Homo sapiens: one gene and its partners. Changing the gene in region 2 together with the main gene of any one other region gives a genetic interaction. Each region holds a gene or a part of one and is shown on either strand. Other genes may lie near its edges.

Region 1 (4,295 bases), on a different chromosome or scaffold from region 2:
TCATGGGAGGAGATCAAAATATCCCTAACTGGATATTGGAAGAAATTGATTCCAATCTTTATGAACAACTAAGAAGGGTTCAAGATTTCAGATGAGGGAAGTAACAGCAGATGTGGTGGAAATAGCAAGAGAACTAGAATTAGAAGTGGAGCCTGATGATGTGACTGAATTGCCACAATCTCATGATAAAACTTGAACAGATGAGGGGTTACTTCCTATGGATGAAGAAAGTGGTTTTTTGAGACGGAATCTACTCCTGGTGAAGATGCTATGAACATTGTCAAAATGTTGGATAAAGGGCTCCAATTTTGAAAGACGTTATATAGTGGTTATTAAAATGCTATAAAACGGCATTGCATGTTGCAAAAAAATCTTTCGTAAAAGGAAGAGTCAATTCTTGCAGAAAATTTCATTATTGTCTTATTTTAAGAAATTGGCACAGTTACCCCAACCTTCAGCAACCACTACCTTGATCAGTCAGCAGCCATCACCATCAAGGCCAGACCCTCCACCAGCAAAAAGATTAGAAGTGGCCAGGTGCGGTGGCTCATGCCTGTAATCCCAGCACTTTGAGAGGCCAAGGCAGGTGGATTACCTGAGGTCAGGAGTTTGAGAATAGCCTAGCCAACATGGTGAAACCCCGTCTCTACTAAAAATACAAAAAAATTAGCCAGGCGTGGTGGCAGGCATCTGTAATCCAAGCTACTCGAGAGGCTGAGGCAGGAGAATCACTTGAACCCGGGAGGCGGAAGTTGCAGTGAGCCGAGATTGTGCCATTGCACTGGGCAGTCTGGGCAACAAGAGCAAAACTCCACCTCAAAAAAAAAAAAAAAAAAAAGATTAGGATTTACTGAAGGCTAAGGTAATCGTTACCATTTTTTGGGCAAGATGTTTTTTAAATTAAGATATATATACTGTTTTTTAGACACAATGCTACTGCACATTTAATAGACTACAGTATAAACAACTTTTATATGCACGGAGAAACCAAAAAAAAATTGCATGGCTTGCTTTATCGAGATATTTGCTGTATTGTGTTGGTCTAGAACCAAACCTGCAATCGCTATGGTATGTCTGTATCTAGCACATGATTATGCACATATAAAACCCAACTCCTTGATTCACAGGCCTCTGGATAGGAGATATGACATGCCCAAGGTCTCGCAGTTCATGTGAGGCAGGAAACTTAAGAGAGCCAGACTTCTTTAAGGAGACTGAAAGGTGATTCATTTAGTGAGTAGCGATTACAGAATTTCTAAAACAGTGGGGGCGGGGGGGGCGGCGGGGAGGAGGGCTGGAATTGTCCTCCAGCGCATACAAGGTTGTTGCTGCCAGAGAAATCCAGCAGGAAAGAGCAGCATTCTTTCACCTTTTCCGCCTCTGAAGCGGAGGAGAACTTCATTTCCCAGCAGCCCTTAAGATTCCTCCGCGCACTGCGCTAGCGTCCCGGCATTCTGCTTTCCGGCGCTCTGCCTTCCGGTGCGTCGTTTACGCCAGTTTGAACCAAAGACGCCCAAGGTTGAGGCCGAGTTCCAGAGCATGGGGTCTCGGTTGTCCCAGCCTTTTGAGTCCTATATCACTGCGCCTCCCGGTACCGCCGCCGCGCCCGCCAAACCTGCGCCCCCAGCTACACCCGGAGCGCCGACCTCCCCAGCAGAACACCGCCTGTTGAAGACCTGCTGGAGCTGTCGCGTGCTTTCTGGGTTGGGGCTGATGGGGGCGGGCGGGTACGTGTACTGGGTGGCACGGAAGCCCATGAAGATGGGATACCCCCCGAGTCCATGGACCATTACGCAGATGGTCATCGGCCTCAGTGAGAATCAAGGCACAGCACTTGGGCGGGTTGGGTATCTGCGGGGTAGAGGAAGGAAACGGAGCAGCCACGTGGGCGGGGAGGCGGGGAGGCGGGGTGCTGCCGCTGGTCAGGTGGTGGGGGCACCTCAAACAAGGTGGGAGAGGAAGTTGTTGGAACGCCTTTCTTTTTTTTTTTTTAATTTTAAGTTAGTATTTCTTGAGAACCCTTATTAGACTCAGCCCTTTTAATTCTCAGAATAGCTGTTAGAAGTAGGTATGATTATAGTATTTACTGTGGAGCAAACCGAGGCAACGAGGAGTATTGTGTTCATGGTCAGGAAATGACAGTCACTTGATCCCAGGTATATCAGATCTCAAAGCCCATACTTTTTCTCCAGGTCCTGGAGAAAGCCTGAGCGAGGGCCCTTGACCTTAATTTAAGAAATTTGCCTTGAATCCCAGATCTTTAGACGTGGATTCTAAGCTCACCTACTTGGTACACCTGGGTAATGTGGCCCACAGCCCCGTTCTGTGATCGTCAAGATGTCATCCAATCAAACGTCATGATTTTTTTAGCTTTCAAACCGATTGTCAGTGAATAGAATTTTAGGTTTCTAACTGTCTTACCTTCTTGATCCTGTATAGGTAAATTCTCCTACAGGATATTCTTTTTTTTCCTGATTTTTTTTTCTTTTTCTGTGCTTCACTTGCCTTATAAGAAAGATACAATGGTAATATATCCTCCAGAAGTGTTGTGAGGGTTAAATAAGATGGCGTATATGTGAAACACTTGGTAAATTTAAATGCAGCATAAAGGTAAGGTATTGTTGTTTTTTTTCTAGGCATTGCCACCTGGGGTATCGTTGTCATGGCAGACCCCAAAGGGAAGGCCTACCGCGTTGTTTGAAAGTACCACCAGTGAATCTGTCTTCTGTCTCTGTCCCTTTCCCCGTGACACACACAGCAGGCATGGAATTTAATGGGTGTTCTGGACAGACACTTGTACATGGACAGACATCACTACTGTGGATACTACAAGACTGAGAAGAAAATCGTATGTTGTCATTCTCTGGCTATGGAGTGTTTGTGGCCTTCACAGATTTCACAGGAACCAATAAATCCCTCAGAGAAGTAAACAGGTTCTTTGTCTTATCTGGGGAAGGAAAGTATAACTTATATTTAAATATAATTGCTTAATTAAGCATTATATATAAACATAATAGTATGTCTTATATAATTGCATGTCATATTATATATAATAAACATAAATATGTTTAGTTATATAGTTAGTATAATTTTTAAAACTTTTAAATACAGCATATGGTAAACCAACGGGAAAATTAGCTATTTTACTTCATTATTTTAAAGAGTTCTTTTTATTTCTTTCATAATTGGATCAACAACTGTTAACCTAACCCTGGGTGGGCATCATGCAATATATAGAAGTACGTGAAATTTTCTGTGTATGAATTGCTGATACTTTGCAAGGCATTTTCAAATCCATCACCTTATGAGAGCTTCACAGCTAGTCTGAGGTAGTTACTTCATTGGAGGTAAAACTTAAAACACAAGAAAGAGCCCACATGATTTGCCTAGGGTCATTCAGTAAGTCCGTGATGGAGCTAGAACTTGTTCTTGTCAGTTTTTTGTTCTAGTCTTCCCTTTCATGGAGGCAAGAATAACCATTATGAAACAGTTAGATAATCATAAAAATCAGCATACAATAAAAGACTTAAATGTCACAAGAAAAATTCAAAACCTTTAGCTAAAAAAAAAAAAGATCTTTTGATTCTTTTTCCACAAGCACTAGATATGTTTCTGTGATGATTTTGAGATAAGTACTCAAAATTACATAGTTCATTTCTAAGAGAAGGCCATGTTTTCTACCTATTGGGTTTTTCTACCCTGAGATACTATGGCTTCTTTGTAAAGGTATATAAAGTGTTTTTCAAAGCGGAAAGATACTGTTAAATTCAGCTGCTAATCATAGTGTATTTGTTTGGAATGACATGTTGAGCAGGTAGTACCTTTACGGCTGTTGCTTTTTGCAGCATTATGTGGAAGTGCCTAAGTCTATTTAGCCTCACAGATGACTTTAGAATCTTGTATTTTCTACATCAGAGTTCATAGCGGGGATGGTGCTACATATATCTATGCAACTGAAAAAGAAAACATTTCAAACCTAAAGTACGCAACAAGATATTATTTATATGAAATCCATAGCTCAGTTATGCTATGTTCATGAATAGAGAAGTTTTAAGTTGGAAGGGACCATGGATGACCCAAAGCAGATACATATGGTCATTCATATACCTAAAATACCTACAAAGACAAGTTGTTCCCTGGTTTAAAAGGCAGTCTGTTCTATTGATGGACTGCTTTAGTCCCTGAACATTTTCTTTGGTTAAACCAAAAACACATAAACCTAACTTGGTCTTGGCTTGATCTACTGGGTAAATAATAACTCTTAAATATATATACAGTTGACCCTTGGACAACAC
Region 2 (3,500 bases):
AAAGTGAGGCTCAAAATTCAGTGGGTGTCTCCAACTTAGGTGGCAGAATCAGGATTCTACGTATACTGTATATGTAAGATGGCAGCAAGCGAGCCCTCAATACTGTCTTTTTATTTTTGAGACGGAGTCTTGCTCTGTCGCCCAGGCTGGAGTGCAGTGGTGCCATCTTGGCTCACTGCAAGCTCCGCCTCCAGGTTCACGCCATTCTCCTGCCTCAGCCTATCGAGTAGCTGGGAGTACAGGCACCTGCCACCACGCCCAGCTAATTTTTTATATTTTTAGTAGAGACGGGGTGTTTCACCGTGTTAGCCAGGATGGTCTTGATTTCCTGACCTCGTGATCCACCCAACTCAGACTAATGTTTTAATCTAATGAATGCTAACTGGTGAGTATTTTCACAAGCAGAAATAACATCAATCAATTACTCTCAGAAAATAAGAAAGACTATGGATTTCTATTATTTTTTTGAAACTGAATCTTGCCATGTTGCCTAAACTGGACTTGAGCTGGGGTGATTCGCCTGCCTTACCCTCCCTGGTGGTTGGGATTACAGGTGCATGCTACAATGCCCAGTAAGATTTTCATGATTCTAAGTAAACTGAGTTATACTTAAAGAGTAACTTCTTGTTCTTTTTTTTTTTTTGAGACGAAGTTTCCCACTTGTGGCCCAGACTGGGGTGCAATGGCGCAATCTTGGCTCACTGTCACCTCCACCTCTGGGGTTCAAGTGATTCTCCTGCCTCAGCCTCCTGACTTCAAGTGATCCACCCGCCTCGGCCTCCCAAAGTGCTGGGATTACAGGCATGAGCCACCGTGAAAAGCCAAGACAAGGAAAATAAACACAATGTTTCATGTGAACAAATATCCCAAACTTTAACATTAATGTTACAAAAGATGATACCCTTTGTATTATTCCCACTGTGCTCCCGACACGTGCTCAAGCTTCTTGTAAATTACAAACATCACAATTCCTTCAATACATCTTACTTTCTGCTTTCAAATTTTAAATACAGTTCTGTTCACATAATACGCATGTTCAGAACCTTTCGATATTTAGGTTAGCCAACTTAAGTATTCCACAAGAATTATATTCAGAACAAGTTTACTGAAAAGTATTTCCTTAACAAGAAACAATACTGAAATTTCAAAACTATGAAAATAACTAGCACACTTGTAAAAAAAAAAACCAAAAAACAAAAAACCAACACTATTCCAAGTAATAGTAGTATTAGAATTTTTTGGACTCTCCCAAGGCTCAATTGAATAACAAGAATGAAACGATACAGTTAAAACCTAAAACTAATTCACAATTTTACAAGTTGAGGCATACGCAGCTGGTTTTTATTACTGAAAATGATTTCCTTTTCTGCAAATCATTTAGGAAAAAGGGTGTAAAAAAGACTTTCAGGCCTTTAATCTGGGAAGCAATCACTTTGCTAAAGAGGTAAAGTAATGACAACTTTGTAGCTCTAGCAATTGTTCTAAAAATCAAGAGGAATGCAAAAACTGCACCGGTACTCCATTAATTAAATCCTCCTAACCTATCTATGGAAACATAAAATGACCCAATTTTCTTAGCTATCTTGTTACATATCACCACCCTTCGCTACTGATTAACAGCAGTTTCTTTTGAAGATGGAATACAGCTATTAGTATATTAACGTAAGGACTACAATAAATAAAATGCCATAAAATAACCACAAAGTTGATATGCTTTAAATTAGCAAAATGCACATAATAGAGTATAGCATATTCCATAAAACACAGCATCAACACTAGAAATCAAAAGCAAAGCATCTCTCACTTACCATCTGTGGATCATTGGATCGGCTCACCCAACCAGATATTAACTTTAAAGTTTCCCTTTTTACAGTTCGCATACTTCTAATCAATGGTTGCTTTGTAACCATTTCACCTACAAAACAGAATCAAATGGAATCTAATTTTACCACTAAACTTATACAGTGGTACTCAGGTGTACATTAGATGCAATTCCATTTTACCATTAAAAAGTTTAAAGCCAAAAGTTCACAAAATTTATTGGGAAAATAAGCTTTAAGACTAATTTTAAAAGGGAAAGGTACACTTAACTGTTTTAAATATGTCTAGGGTCATTTGGGAAATGGGAGGTCTGATTTAAATCTGTAAAAAACATCAAATGTTTGACTTAAGGCAGTAGAAGAGAAGTGGTTTGTTTATACTGCATTGTGTAAGAAATCAGAATCACCTACCATTAGCTTGGATAGCTGCAGAAATATTTTCACTGAGGCACTTGTATACATTAAGCATATCTAAATAAATTCTTCCAAGCTGAATTACAAAGGGGTGTCCAACAGCTTTGCAGGCTCTCACATTTGTTTTCAAAATGCTACCAAGCTGCTTGACTGTTTCAGGATCTTTCAGTATATCCACATTCTTGGAGGAAAAAAAGCAAATTCCATTTATCATATAAGAATTATCCACGGCTGGGAACAGTGGCTCACGCCTGTAATCCCAGCACTCTGAGAGGCCGAGGCGGGCGGATGATGAGTTCAGGAGATCGGGACCATCCTGGATAACACGGTGAAACCCCGTCTCTACTAAAAATACAAAAAAAATAGCCAGGCGTGGTGGCAGCCGCCTGTAGTCCCACCTACTCGGGAGGTTGAGGCAGGAGAACGGCGTGAACGCTAGAGATGGAGTTTGCAGTGAGCCGAGATCGCACCACTGCACTCCAGCCTGGGCGAAAGAGCAAGACTCCGTCTCAAAAAAAAAAAAAGAATTATCCATCATAATGGCCAGGCGAGGTGGCTCACACCTATAATCCCAGCACTTTGGGAGGCTGAGTCGGGTGCATCACCTGAGGTCGGGAGTTCAAGACCAGCCTGACCAACATGGAGAAACCCTGTCTCTACTAAAAATACAAAATTAGCCAGGCACAATGGTGCTTGCTTGTAATCCCAGCCACTTGGGAGGCTGAGGCAGGAGAACTGCTTGAGCTCGGGAGGCAGAGGTTGCAGTGAGCCGAGATCACGCCATTGCACTCCAGCCCGGGCACCAAGAGTGAAACTCCATCTCAAAAAAAAAAAAAATCCACATAATTACCAAAGCAAAAGCCATTACGCTTCCCTTACCCTAAACCATATTTATAATCCCAAATGGTAAAAACGAACACAAACGCCTTTTTGTCTACATCTACTTAAGAATGAAGTAATATAGTTCTATTTTTTTTTTTTTGGGACGGAGTCTCGTTCTGTTGCCCAGGCTAGAGTGCAGCGGCGTGATCTCGGCTCACTGCAAGCTCTGCCTCCCAGGTTCACGCCATTCTCCTGCCTCAGCCTCCTGAGTAGCTGGGACTTACAGGCGCCCGCCGCCACACTCAGCTAATTTTTGTATTTTTAGTAGAGACAGGGTTTCACTGCGTTAGCCATGATGGTCTCGATCCCCTGACCTGGTGATCCGCCTGCCTCGGCCTCCCAAAGTGCTGGGATTACAGGCATGAGCCACCACACCCAGCCTAT
Region 3 (4,273 bases), on a different chromosome or scaffold from region 2:
ACAGAGCGAGACTCCATCTCAAAAACCAAACAAACAACAACAAAAAACAAAAACACGGATGTAACATTACAACCATTGCTCATATTCCAGTCCTCAAGATCAACTATGGGCATGGATTTCTTAAGCAGTATCTTAGGATGGGTGATGTTATTACAGTTAAAAAAAAATCTTCTGATTTCTATTTGAGATGGTGATATCAGCCTGCAAAAAATGAACAACACTAAACTAGAATTTTAGACATATTTGGATGAAGTTTTACCATCCATGTATAAGAATCAACTCGGAGATGCCATATACCAAAGTCTATAAAACTATTTTACAAATTAACAGCTGCTAAAGAAAAACTTAGTAACTTTGAACTTTGTGTAATTAAGTGCAGGTTTGACACATGGTCTAATTTAATGACTTTTCACTTTCTGGACAACAGCCCTTTGTTCCCCCCTTTTTAAAAAATGGATTCACTACTTTTGATTTCTTACCTTTAACCACAAAGGAAAAATTGGTCACACTCATGGTTCTACTCTAACTGAATGCAGCTCACCACTGCTACACAACAGGATACAGATGCCTGACTTCAACGTAAGTCTTCCAGAACAACAACGTTTGATGACGGGTCTGCTCTTACCACCTTTGCTGTCCAGGCTGTCCTCTCAGCTTTCTCTGCAGGAAGTGAGGAGCAGGAAGGGATATTCCCTGCCAGTTGGTGCCTTTCTGTATCCATCCCCATGGGGTTTCATAGAACTTTTACAGAAAATTAAGAACAGCTAAACACTTCACTGATCCTGAATTATGACACCCTTTGCCATATAGGGTCCTCTCTGACAACTGTAACCACAGATATCATCCCTTTTCTGAACATCCATGTGGCCTGAAAGCCTCAATCTAACCTCTGAATACGTACTAAGCTGAGATGGGAGCTGATAGCTCCTCCCTGCCAAACACTGTATTTTTTTTTTTTTAAGACGGAGTCTTGCTCTGTCGCCCAGGCTGGAGTGCAGTGGCGCGATCTCGGCTCACTGCAAGCTCCGCCTCCCGGGTTCAGGCCATTCTCCTGCCTCAGCCTCCCGAGTAGCTGGGACTACAGGCGCCCGCAACCACGCCCAGCTAATTTTTTGTATTTTTAGTAGAGACGGGGTTTCACCGGCTTAGCCAGGATGGTCTTGATCTCCTGACCTCGTGATCCGCCCGCCTCGGCCACCCAAAGTGCTGGGATTACAGGCGTGAGCCACCGCGCCTGGCCCAAACACTGTATTTTTGAAAGTGAGACACCTGCTCAGTGCTGAGGAGAGAAAGGATCTGCTTGAGGTCCCAGAACTTCTTGGTAGCCACCCCATTCATCCTCCCAAACAGTTCCCTCTCATCTTTTATATCAAGTCTGAAGCTGTAGGAGCTGCAAAGCCTCCTCATTTACCTGCATCCTCCCTGGGCACCTATAACAATGCCTAGAACACTGAAGCAGATCAGTAAAAGGGGGATGGACAAAGAAGGGAGAATCCAAAGGCACCCAAGTCAAAATCTAGAAGTCAACGCAGAAGAGGGACTAGGACTGTGAGAAATGTGCAGGGAAAAAGCTATGGGGGCGCAGAAAAGAGTTGCCTACGGAGCAGCTAAGTGCCCAGGCTCTGGAGTGAAGCAGAGCTAGGCTTTTTCGTTCAGGCAGTCAACAAATACTCATTGAGGGCCTTCTTGGTGCAGGCAATTGTTATGCGCAGGGGATAGATAGGCTGAGCAACACAAAATAGGCCCTGTTCACATGAGGAGAAGAAAACATGTAAACACCTTTAATTTCAACTAGTGACAAAAGACACTAAAGAGAAAAAACCCAGAGTTTGTGTTACAAAGGGTGTGTGGGGGGATGGGGGGTGCAATTTTAGACAGCATAGCCAAGGAAAAGCGTCTTTGAGAACGCAGTATTTACGACTGAGACTCAGATGGCCTTGGACTATGGATGGCCAGCTGTGTGACCTTGGGCACTCAACCTCTCAGAGCCCCAGTTTTCTCATGTGGATTATAGAGCCAACACCCAGTACCTCGCAGGGCCGGAAGAGTGTAAAAGTATATGGACCTAAGTCACCTGGCACGCACTTAGTAGACTGTTTATTGTCATTCTGGGCAGGTTAGAGACCTGTGACAGACGTGAAAGTTCAGGAGAAAAGCGTGAAAATGCAAGGTCCCTGTAGGACCAACTACTACTCCAAGAATCTACTTCCTTGCACATCACCTCCCTACTGGATTGCGAGTTCTAGGGCAGGAACCAGGTGGTCTCCCCTCCGACCCCCAGCACCAGGAGGCAAAGCCGAGAGCGCGGAGCGCTGGGCCAGGCACTGGGCCACCTGGCTGCCGCTGCCCCCGAGGCAGCCATCTTGGTGTCCCCGGAGCGAGTTCGCCACGCAGGCGCCGAAGACAGCGCGGCCAGGCGCGCGGGGACGCGGCGGAGGGCCCTTCCCACCGGGGACGAGGCCCACGGGATGCTGGGCCTCGGGATGCTGGAAGCGTGGTGTTGTCCGGCCGCAGGATGCCAGGGATCCCCAGGTGCAGGGACCCCCCCCCCGGCCCGAGGCATCCCCGGCCCGCAAAGGGGCTTCCGACCTCCGAGCCCGGGGTCTCCCCGCAGCCGGCCCGCGGGTGCACGGCCCGAGCCTGCCCAAGCCTGCGCGCCTCCGCCGGGCCCCCTGCGCGTTTCCCCACCCACCTGGCTGGGCCTGCCGCCCGCGACTCACCGCTTCCCCCGGGCTGCCGCCCGCGCTGCTCGCAGGTCCCGCTCAGTGCAGCCTCCGCCGCCACCGGAAACGCTTCTCCCGCCACGGCGTCCTCGCGCGTCCCCGGAGCGCGTCCTCGCGCGCGCCTGTGAGCGCGCGTCCGGGCCCGGGAGCTACGAGGCCCAGGGACCCGCCCTCCGGGTCCAGGCCCGGGTCCAGGCCCCGCCCCGCGCCCGCGACTCCGCTTCTGGCTTAGCGACCGCGCCCCGGGTCCAAGAGGAACTCCAAGCCCATCCTCACGGTGGTGTGGGGCTCTGCGCGGGCTGGGGCCACTATGTTCCATTTGGGTTTCCCTTAAGGGACTGCTTCTTTATCATTTCTTTATTCCCAGGGCCTTGGCGTAGCCAGCATCCGTTCACGCAGTCATTTACCCAATTAAAGTGTGGAGCTTGGCAAGACTGGCGCTACAAGGCGATTTTAGGACTTTAGTGCCACGACCTGATTTATGTCTTAAACAACAACAACAACAACGGCGCACTCTGTCTTCTTTATGGAGAACAGACTGCGTGGGAGGGGATGTGGAGGCAGAGAGGCTGTTTAGCCAGATGCTGTGGTTATCCAGGAGAGGAATCATGGTATTTTGGACCAGGTGGGTAACCTGGGCATATTTAAAGGGCAAATGAAATCTAATAAATGGTGAATTACATCATAAATTGCATAGGAAGATTCCATTTTTAAAGATGTAAATTCTCTCCCAAATGACCTATGACAATAAAAAAAAATTCGACAACACTAGTGTGCTTGGTGGAGTGTGTGTTATAACTGCACAAGCGGACTGCAAAATGTACATGAAAAAAATAAAGAGCCAGAAACAGCCAAACAAGCTTTTAAGAAAAGAGCAAGGCAGAGTGACTTGTCCTGCAGATACAAAACTTGTTATAAAACAATGGTAAATAACAAAGGTGGTGTGTTTGCTCCGGGGTCAACAAAGAGCCTCGCGGAGCCAAATAGAGTTGCCATCCATGTAGAAACCTGCACATGTAGAAACCTGCTGTGAGTTGGCATCACAGGTCAGGGGACAAAGGTTAGATATTCATTAAACAGTACTGGGATAGCCAAATCCCTACTTGTATAATACATGAAACTCAACTCCAGGTGGATTAATGATCCAAACGTGAAAAACAAAACTTCTAAAACTTAAGCAATATGTCACAGATATTTTGAGTGCTATTCCTCATCCTCCAAATTCCTATGAATGTTTAACTAGCTTTTTCTCTGTACCATACCCTGTGCCAAGTGCTGGGCTCAAAAAGATATATAAAAGATCGCCCCTTCTTGGCTGGGCACTGTGGCTCATGCCTATAATCTTAGCACTTTGGGAGGCCGGAGTGGGTGGATCACCTGAGCTAAGAAGTTTAAGCCTGGACAACATGGTAAAACCCCATCTCTACCAGAAATACAAAAAATTACCTGGGCATGGTGGCGTATGGTCCCAGCTACTCAGGAGGCTGAGGTAGCAGGATTGCTGGAGCCTGGGATGTGGAGGTTGCAGTCGGCTGAGATTGTGCCACTGC
Region 4 (3,500 bases), on a different chromosome or scaffold from region 2:
TATACTTATCAGTTAAGCATCCCCAGTTCTGAAATCTGAAATCCAGTTCTGAAATCTGAAATGCTCCAATGAGCATTTCCTTTGAGCAAAAAGTTTCAGATTTTGGAGCATTTTGGATTTGGGATGCTCAACCTGTGTAAATATTTGTTAATATATAATGTAAATAATTTTAAAAGATCTCAAACAACTTAATTTTGAAAATTACCATTTAATTATGCCAAGCAATTGGTCATTCTCCCTAATTTTCTAGTCCGCCTCTAATCTGTTCTCCTCAGTAAATAATAAAAAGATAGCACATTCATTTATTATAAAGCCCAAGTAGGTATAAGTTTAACTCATAACTGTTTGAAGAGTCAGACTTTATGTCTGAAATAATCACTTTATACAATGTGTGTGTGTGTTTTTTTTTTTAAAGGACTAGACTTAGAACCTTTCCCCATACTGTCAATGGTATACCTGGGGTAGTGCAGCATGCACATTTCAAGATTGTAAAGACTACTACCCGAATCCAAAATTGAGAGAGAACCTGTTTATATAAAACTCATTAGTGAACACTCTTCTTAACAGCTACAGAGGCTGCCAGTAGCTATGATGTCAATTCTCTACTTCATGCATCTGTAGGCTAAATGGAAAATTAAGATATGACTGAAGAGAAGCTCCTCTTCATATTCAGGTCTGCAACTTTTCTCTTTAAAAAGGAGAGAATTAAGATCAATGAATACCAATACTGGAGAACTTTACAACGTATGAATTAACTCCTACAGTTAAGGGGTCACTACTTATAACGTTGTATCAGTAAGTCACCTAACGATCTACTTGTATCATGTCTAGCAAACTTCACTGTCCCCATCTTACTTGCTTTCTCCATGACACCTGAATTTTCCTGATGCTTTCTTTCTCTTGACTTCAATGACATCTCCCATGTTTCACCTTTTTTCCCCTATTTCTATGGTTCCCTTTTCAGTCTTCCCAGATGCTGTGCTCTCCTTCTTTAATCTAACCTGTCAGATGGCAATATTTCTCATAGTTCTGACTTAGGCACTTGTCTTCTGTAACATACCTTGTGTGAAACACTCAAAAGCTTAAAAAAAAAAAAAAAAAAAAAGTCCCTGCATGAGGGTTTCCAGTATCTGTATCTTAGCCTCTGTTTTTCTTCCAGGCTCTGGATCTACTTTGTTAGATAGAAAGTTGAATATCTTCATCTCAGCATCCCACAGATACTTGCTCTGGCACTCTCTGTCTAGTCCAATCATAACCTCTATTCTTCTAGTACAGTATGTGATATATGAAGATCATAAATAATCAATGAATTCTACCAATGCCATAAATCCTAATTTCAAGCACCAAATTAAATTTGATACCTTTCCAAAGTTTGAGAAAAAAAGCTTCTGTAATTAAATATTTTTAGGTGCAGATTCATCTATTAAGATACATACAATAGTGGTAAACCTCTAAATTTATAGAGTTCTCTTATTTTAAAGTTATTTAGATAGTAGCTCATTTATCATCAATGACCTTGTCATGTTGGAGATGTAAAACTTTAGCTCCTCCTTTTGTTTGGTTGGATGGAAGAAATGAAGAACAGAGAGATAAGTGACTTGCCCAAGGCCACCCACTATGTCAGCCGGAAGGTCACCCAGGTTTCCCAACTTTCAGTCCAATCCTCTTTTTGCTATACTACGCTGTTGTTTAAAAGACATTCTATTAAGAACATGTGAGGCATTTGAATATATAAGGAGTCAAATTTTACAAATGCAATCAATATGAGACCATAAAAATAAAATGGATTTTTATCCCTTGCCCACATACAGTATCCTTTTCATTTTAACAAGTCCTAAAGAAGATATTATCCTTGTCCTCCGTATCATGATGTTACTACTTTGAAATAACCATCAACGAAGAGTCTAATATGTGCATACTATGTTAGATTTTTAAAAGATGTATGTACATCTAAGGCCAAACTAAAAATAACTCTTAAAACTTTGTTAAAGACACTCTTATTTTCCCAGTTTCCTAGTCTTGAAAGTTGTATGTAAAAGTGTTCAACAAGGCCTTACTAATACAATGCTCATAAACGTCAGCTGAATCTATTTTCTACTGAGTCCCAACTCAAATTACCAACTTTGAGCAATTTTATCTCCCAAGCCATTGCTCATGTTTACCTATTTCTTTCCATTTATTTAGCACCTTGGTCTGGACTTCATTACCTTAAGACTGCTGGAATAGCTTCCTATAAAGACTACCTTCTGATTTTTCCTTTTTTCAATCCATAGGATAGATATCCTGCTATAAAAATATAAAAAAGTCCCCTAAGATATTTATCTCATAACATCACGTCTTTGCTCAAAAATGTCAGTGCCTGCTTCCATTTGAAAATGCCTGATTTAGAATAGCTAGCATGATGTGCACATAGTTAACATTCAGTGTCAAAATATGAGCGCCCTTACTAACCTGAACCTGTCTTCTCAGTCTCCCCTACGCTCCCTACAAAATCTGTGTTTCAGCCCTTATTCTCTAAACATTCTCCCTCCTCTTTCATTCTTGTGCTTTCATCACAATGCTTGATACAAGATAAGCATGCAATAAATATTTACTCAGAGAATGAATAAGTGCCCAATGTTGGCTATTAAATTTTACCAATCCTTCAAGAAGTGAAGATTTTGTATATTTCTATAAAAGCTTTCTTGATCCTGCTAGTGAAGGAATATGATTCTTCCTCTCCTTCCCTTGCAACACTACAGCATTTTAATTGTACCTCCTTACGAGGAGTTAACCAACAGAGCAGACTATTACTAGTGTATTATTTTCATCCTGAGAATAGGGTCAGTTTTTTAAAAATATCCTTCTAACCCTTGTTGCACCCAGTAGACTGCCTTGCATATGAACACCAGTCAACTAATATGCCTCAAATAGTAGCAACAATAAAGCTTAGCTTGATTCTAAACTCACTGCTGGTTTTAGCACTCTGCAATTTTAAGTATTAGCAGAACTTAAATATTCCCTAATGATTATAGTAAATAATTTTGTTATAAAAGTCAGTGATAAGGTTTGGCAAACATTTAAAAAACCTGATTTACGCCGGGCGCGGTGGCTCACGCCTGTAATCCCAGCACTTTGGGAGGCCGAGGCAGGCGGATCACGAGGTCAGGAGATCGAGACCATCCTGACTAAAACGGTGAAACCCCGTCTCTACTAAAAATACAAAAAATTAGCCGGGCGTAGTGGCGGGCGCCTGTAGTCCCAGCTACTTGGGAGGCTGAGGCAGGAGAATGGCGTGAACCTGGGAGGCGGAGCTTGCAGTGAGCCGAGATCCCGCCACTGCACTCCAGCCTGGGCGACAGAGCGAGACTCCGTCTCAAAAAAAAAAAAAAAAAAAAAAAAAAAAAAAAAAAACAACCTGATTTACTTTTAATAAAGTTAGCTCTAGGACCAGAGCAGCTGCAGTTTAGATTGTAATTTCTTTCTTGGGTAACTGGAGATAGTTTACTGAAAGCAGACAA

The links. A genetic interaction does not mean that the proteins touch.
Region 1: changes in XPO1 (region 2) and DMAC1 together harm fitness more than expected from each alone (negative genetic interaction), as found in Homo sapiens cells (one large-scale study listed by BioGRID).
Region 3: changes in XPO1 (region 2) and SFXN1 together harm fitness more than expected from each alone (negative genetic interaction), as found in Homo sapiens cells (one large-scale study listed by BioGRID).
Region 4: changes in XPO1 (region 2) and NAMPT together harm fitness more than expected from each alone (negative genetic interaction), as found in Homo sapiens cells (one large-scale study listed by BioGRID).

The regions. Positions count from the first base shown.
Region 1 is NC_000009.12:7,796,979-7,801,273, reverse strand, and holds the start of DMAC1 (distal membrane-arm assembly complex protein 1), read left to right. Parts: upstream 1-1,495; 5' UTR 1,496-1,539; coding exon 1,540-1,813; coding exon of another isoform or gene 1,814-1,825; intron 1,826-2,636; coding exon 2,637-2,701; coding exon of another isoform or gene 2,702-2,838; 3' UTR 2,839-4,295. UniProt on the Homo sapiens protein: Required for the assembly of the mitochondrial NADH:ubiquinone oxidoreductase complex (complex I). Involved in the assembly of the distal region of complex I.
Region 2 is NC_000002.12:61,486,357-61,489,856, forward strand, and holds part of XPO1 (exportin-1), read right to left. Parts: intron 2,416-3,500; coding exon 2,232-2,415; intron 1,916-2,231; coding exon 1,809-1,915; intron 1-1,808. UniProt on the Homo sapiens protein: Mediates the nuclear export of cellular proteins (cargos) bearing a leucine-rich nuclear export signal (NES) and of RNAs.
Region 3 is NC_000005.10:175,477,087-175,481,359, reverse strand, and holds the start of SFXN1 (sideroflexin-1), read right to left. Parts: upstream 2,801-4,273; 5' UTR 2,721-2,800; exon of another isoform or gene 2,693-2,720; intron 1-2,692. UniProt on the Homo sapiens protein: Amino acid transporter importing serine, an essential substrate of the mitochondrial branch of the one-carbon pathway, into mitochondria.
Region 4 is NC_000007.14:106,264,484-106,267,983, forward strand, and holds part of NAMPT (nicotinamide phosphoribosyltransferase precursor), read right to left. Parts: intron 689-3,500; coding exon of another isoform or gene 670-688; exon of another isoform or gene 1-669.